Linked DNA regions of Homo sapiens: region 2 is linked to region 1. Evidence: fine-mapped expression QTL. A gene starts in region 1. The other region holds a variant in brackets. All regions are shown on one strand. Distances are between the middles of the regions.

What was found. PIP is the estimated chance that this variant, and not a neighbour inherited with it, causes the effect.
Region 2: its variant is the best candidate, but not a certain one, in a credible set for the expression of AKT2 in whole blood (INTERVAL, PIP 0.86).

Annotation. Positions count from the first base shown.
Region 1 is chr19:40,283,807-40,286,701 of GRCh38, reverse strand. AKT2 (AKT serine/threonine kinase 2) reads left to right here and starts at 1,357. Exons shown (of 14, transcript NM_001626.6): 1 at 1,357-1,521. RefSeq lists enhancers at 205-1,036, 2,193-2,332 and a silencer at 1,323-1,822.
Region 2 is chr19:40,231,626-40,234,520 of GRCh38, reverse strand. AKT2 (AKT serine/threonine kinase 2) reads left to right here. Exons shown (of 14, transcript NM_001626.6): 14 at 570-2,895. The coding sequence ends at 649. Among named protein-coding and RNA genes, the nearest start is that of CCNP, 6.4 kb to the right of the region's middle. The variant C/T (reference allele first, on the strand shown) is at 1,672.

The sequences.
Region 1 (2,895 bases):
AGAAAACGAAAGCCGAACCCTCAGCAGGATTTGCCTGAAACACTCTCACAGACTGAGGTGGACCCAGGATTCAACTCTCAGTCAGGCATTTTTCTCACTTACCAATGCATACAATTGCCAAGTTATATGGCATACTGGAACCCAAATTCAGGAGGCAGCACAATCCCCTATGAGAGAGGAGGGGCTGGGAGCCAGATGTCTCACAGCTGTCCAGTATACTAGCTAATATACGGATTAGGATCTGTGCAAAGCTCTTTTCTTGCAGGGTCATTTTTTTTCTTTTTTCTTTCTTTTCTTTTTTTTTTTTTTTTTTGAGACGGAGACTTGCACTGTCGCCCGGGCCGGAGTGCAATGGCATGATCTCGGCTCACTGAAACCTCTGCCTCCCGGGTTCACGCGATTCTCCTGCCTCAAGCCTCCCAAGTAGTTGGGATTACAGGCACACACCGACATGCCCGGCTTTTTTTTTTTTTTTTGTATTTTGAGTAGAGACGGGGTTTCACTATGTTGGCCAGGCTGTCTCGAACTCCTGACCTCATGATCCGTCTGCCTTGGCCTCCCCAAGTGCTAGGATTACAGGAGTGAGCCACCGCGCCCGGCCGCAGGGTGATTTTAAGGCCTTTATGGGCCCAAGTTGCATTATAAAATGTTATATCCCAGATTCACTGGAATATGTACGATGAGAGCAGGTGGCATTAATATCTTGCAGTAATGAACTAATTGGTAAAAACCGTTTTGTTTACATTAAAATGGTTCAAAAGCCAGCGACACAGCGATGATTGTTTCCATTTAGCAGATGTGGATACTGAGGCACAGAAAACGGTCAAGCCTTCTGCCCACAGTCACCAGAAAGGAGGAAATTCAAGTCTGGGGTTGTGTGGCTTCAGAGCCTGAGCTCAACCATGACGAGCACACTGAAAAGGAAACCCCTCCTAACTAACTCCCGCTCCGGGGTCCTTTAAGAGCGTCAGAACCCAGAACTGAGTAAAACAAGATCAAAGCGTATGTAAATACGGACTAGGGGCTGCCGGGAAATAATCACTACGGCTAGGCCCTAGGGAAAGCAGACGTCGGAGTCCTAGTGCGCCTGCGTAGCCCCATCTCGCCTTTCCGCCCCACGGCCTAGCGAGGCCCATCTCTAACCCACACAGGCCCAAAGTTGTCTAATGTGCGCAGGCGCCCTGCTGTGAGCCCGCCTCCTTCTCTGCCCTGCTCTTGCGCTCTCGCTCTCTCAGAGTTCGTCTCTGGCTCTTTGTACGTCACTTCCTGTTTGTGGCGCGAGAGGGCGGTATTTCCGTCCAGAGGGTGGGAGGGGGCGGTAAGCGGGGGCTGGGGGGAGGGGGCGGGGGGGGCCGCGCCGTGCTAGCCGTTGGGCCTGCCTCGGAGGAGGCGTCGCCGCCGCCGCTGCCGCTGCCGGCGCCGTTGCCGCTGCCGGGAAACACAAGGAAAGGGAACCAGCGCAGCGTGGCGATGGGCGGGGGTAGAGCCCCGCCGGAGAGGCTGGGCGGCTGCCGGTGACAGGTGAGTGCGCCAGCGCGTGTCCCCGAACGCCCCCCCCACGATGGTCGCGTCCGGGCCCCCCGCGGTGCCGCGATGGGCTGTACCACCCGTGCCCGGCGGGGGGACCGCGGCCCTCGAGCCCCTCCTTCAGGAGCTGAGTGGGGGTGGCCGAGCGGGGGCGGTGGGACCAGCCTCGGGGGGCCGGGGCGGTGGCGGCGGGCCATACCACTGAGGCGGTGGGGGGAGCGCTGCAAGTTTGCGGGACGGGGAGCGCAGGCCGCAGCGTGCGCGGGCCGGGGGCTGGACCTTTCGGGCGCGGCGGGCAGATCGAGCCTGGCGTGCGCGGGCTAAGCTATCGAGGGGGCGCGCCGCATCAAGTGTAGAGGGCTGTACCTTTTTGGCGCTGTGGAAGCCGTTGCTGTGCTGTATTTACAGGGGTGGGGGCTTCTGGGGAGGATGCTTCCCCAACTGTGGCTGGGTTATATCACCACGGCGTTGGGGGAGCCCTGCTTAGAACGTAGGGGAACCCAAATCAGAGGACTGTGATGTTTGTGATCTTTAAGGGACTGGGACGGGGCGGGACAGGCCCTAGTGGGTTTTAGGGGCGTATTTTGGGAGGACTGTGATGCCGATTGGTGAGGAGGGGTTTCTGTTTCCTGTATTTGACGTGTGTGGCGTTGGGGGTTTACACTGATCTCAGCCTTTATTGAACTTCTTAACGACTCTGGAGGGAACGTCATGGTTACTGGGGTGCTTTGGACCATGGAGGTGCTGCTCTGGATTCCATTACCCTCTCAGATTATTTACCAGGCAGTAACAGTTCTTTCCTTCCATAGGGGAGGGAGGAAAGCTGTGTTAGAAGTCACTGAAGTTGTCTGAGCCTTAACATTCTGAAGAGGAAGAGGGATTGGGCTTGGATTTGAGGAGCCGTGCCCCTGCACCCGCTTGTTAAAACTTGGGAGGAAGGAGTGTTTGGGGGAACACCTCTTCCCCCCAGGGAAGCTCTCTGGGGGCATCTTGATCTTGGGATTGTGAGGACCTCTTCCTCTCATTTGGAGACCTCTTGGGGCTCAGCAAGACGCCTGGGCTGGAGTAACTAGAGCCTCCAATGGGCTGCTTTTCAACTTCATCCACTCCTACCTTCCCAGAGAAGCAGCAGGAGTTCACTCGTGGGCTGAACTTGGTTGGCAGTGGATGTGAAGGGTCCAGGAACCAACGCAGACCACTACATGCTCCTCTGTCGCTGGCCACGAAGCTGTTTGTGTCTCCCAGTTACCAGCTCGGTCACACATCATGTTTACACTCCCCACCAAGGCAGTAACAGTTGGCCTTGCAGTGAGGCCGGGAGCTGTTTTCCCAGCTGTTCCTCTTTGCATAGGCCAAGGGGACTTGGAG
Region 2 (2,895 bases), 52 kb after region 1:
ATGACGTGTGGGATGCCAGCAATGGGAGAAGCATGGCATAGCTAAGGACCGGCAGCAGCCAGGGAGATGGTGGTGAGAAGAGAGGGCATGGGGCTGGAGTGCAAGGGTCTGGGGGCCACTGGGAGGGGTGGGGACTGCTTGCATGGCGGGAGCCAGCCATGGAAGGGTTTCATACAGAGAGGGACAGGGTTAAAGCAGGCCTTTAGAAAGCCCCCCTGGCTGCCCGTGGAGAATGGATGGGAGGGTGCGAGAGGCAGGCCAGGACAGGGCTCTGGGCTGGACTCTGGCATGGTGGTGTGTGGGGCAGAGAGAAGGTGGGAGGCTCAGAAGGCCCTGCCAGCTGTGGGGCGCATGGGCAAGGGCACAGGAAACTCCCAGAGGAGGCCGCCCGGGGCTCAGGTTTGGGGAGTGGGTCCGTGGCTGAGGGCCTCCATTGCGGAGGGATGGGCCTTTCCTGTCCTGTCCTGTGGGCAGCCCCCGCCAGCTGGGGCCGTTTCCCCAGGGAGTCTGGGCAGGTGTCCCAGGCCCTCTCCTGACTGGTCCTCCCCATCCACCTCTGCCGCCCACAGATGACAGCCTGGGCTTACTGGAGCTGGACCAGCGGACCCACTTCCCCCAGTTCTCCTACTCGGCCAGCATCCGCGAGTGAGCAGTCTGCCCACGCAGAGGACGCACGCTCGCTGCCATCACCGCTGGGTGGTTTTTTCCCCCTAACTTTTTACTTAGCCTTTTTGGTTTGTGTCCCCACCCCCACCTCCTCACCCCCTTTCCAGTTCTTCTTCAGGCCCCTCCCAGACGCACCCCAGCGGCCCCTGCAGCCCCTGCCTCCAGCCTCCAGCCTCACCTTTGTGCCCAGACTCGCATTTGGAAGACTCCACCTCCCGCCCAGGCCTGGGCTGTTGGGCGGTTGGAGATTCAGGTTTTAATCCACACAAGCCCCAGTGAGGGGTGAAGCATGGCGCCTGGGGCCTGCCTGAGTTTCTGGCCTGGGTGTCGTGCTGGTGTCTGCCTCCGCGCTGCTGCATCTGGACGAAGGCTGCCTTCTGGTGGGACGCGACACCCGGCAGACAGTGGTGCTGCCTTCCAGGCCCCGTGGCCTAGGCTCGGAGTGGCCAGGCACGGGGCGGTCCAATCCCCCACCCGCTGTCCCCCTATGGGGGCAGAAAAGCAATAATGTCCAGGGGCAGGCAGGGGCCCTTGGGAGCTGCAGGGCTGGGGGTTAGGGCTGCTCCCTGGTGAATGGAGTCAGATCCTAGGATCTGTACCATGGGGAACCAGGAGTGGCCGGGCTGGGTGCCGCCTCCTGGTCCGGCCTCCTCCCCACCAAACTGTCCTCACCCTATGGATGAGGCAGGAGGAACATTTGGGGCCAAACCTGCCTGCCTCCCAGCCCCGTGCCTTACTAGGGCTTCCTTCCAGCTGGCCTTACCTCCCGCTGGACCCTGGGCCTGGCCTGGCCCCACTGGGGGCTATGGGCTGGGCTCACCCTCTCCTCTGCGGGGGTGGAGGGCCACCAGCCTTGGCTGTTACAATCTTACACCGGACAGTATTGGGCCCCATGGACTTGGTCAGGGAGGGGTGGGGGTGGGCATCTCTGGTACCTATTGGGGTGGGGGGCCTCTGAAAAGGGAGGCTCCTAGGCCCCCCTCACCCCTCCCTCTCCCCAGGGCC[C/T]CACGTTCTGCAGCCTTAAGGTTGAACATGAGTGCACGTCCATGTCAGTGCTGTGGGACTCCTGTGCGTGCCTCGGACTGCGTGTGTCGGCGGGACGCAGGCACACGTGGGTGTGTGTGCATGTGTGTTTGTGTGAGGGCAGCGTGTCCTCCAGTGTGCATGGTGTGTGGGCTTGGGCCCCATCCCTGGCCCGAGCATTTCATCCTGTGGGGGAGGGGTGCTGACCTAGTGGGAGGAGCCCCACTGTGATCCATGAGCTGCCCTGCCCACGCCTCCCCTCCCTGTAGCAACACCTCTGGGTGTTTGGAGTTTAGCTTTTGTGGGTTTGCTCTCCCTATCCCATCTCCTGTACTACACAGTTCATGGCAGGGTGGGGAGGGGTGGGGTTGGTTCGGGTGGGTGAGGGTCTTTTTCCTCTGTGTGCGATGTTGTTATCTGACAGTTCTCCGTCCCTACTGGCCTTTCTCCTCGTCTTCATATTTGTACGGTACAAGCAATAAAGACACTCATTTCAGACCAGGGCCCAGCCTGCACTCACGCCAGCCCAACCACTCTGGGCTTTGCCTTGGTGATGGAGTCAGACCCCTGGGCCCCAGCTCCTCCTGTACTAGCCGTTCCCTTCAGCAAGGAGGGCACTGAGCTCAGGGTGAGGGCAGCTGGGGTGTGTGCAGGAGCTCAGGCTGGAGAGGGTGGGTGGAGCTGGTGCTGTGGGGCTGAGGGGTATGGGAAGGCTCCCCGCATGTGGGGGTGGGGTGGACAGAGACCACTCCAGGCCCTCAGTGCTGCTTAGGCTAAGAGAGGTGGGGTGGAGGGACAGGGCTGGAAGATCTGGGTAGCCCAGAATGAGGAGGGTGCCTGTGCTGTCACTGAATGAGAGGGAGTGGTTCATTCCACCCGGCTGCCGAGCCTCAGAGGGGGGCATTCCTATCCTGCCCCACCTCCCTGTTTATGCTGCCACCTGGAAGCCTTGAGGCCCCCAAATTCCAGTACAGACCCAGTGGTGTGTTCATGGTGGCGTGGTTGCTGTCACCTGGGAGCTCCTGAGCGTTTGGTTAGAACCCTGTTCAGCTTGGGGTCAGCCCTCCCCTAGTCACTGCCCTTTAGCCTGGATGTGTCTGGGCCCCTGCACTTCCCGTGCTTGAGTCACGTGGCTGCATGGCCGGGCGCTGGCCGGATGGAACACCTCCCCCAGCAAGGGACCAGGGACCAGAGCCCTGGCCTGCC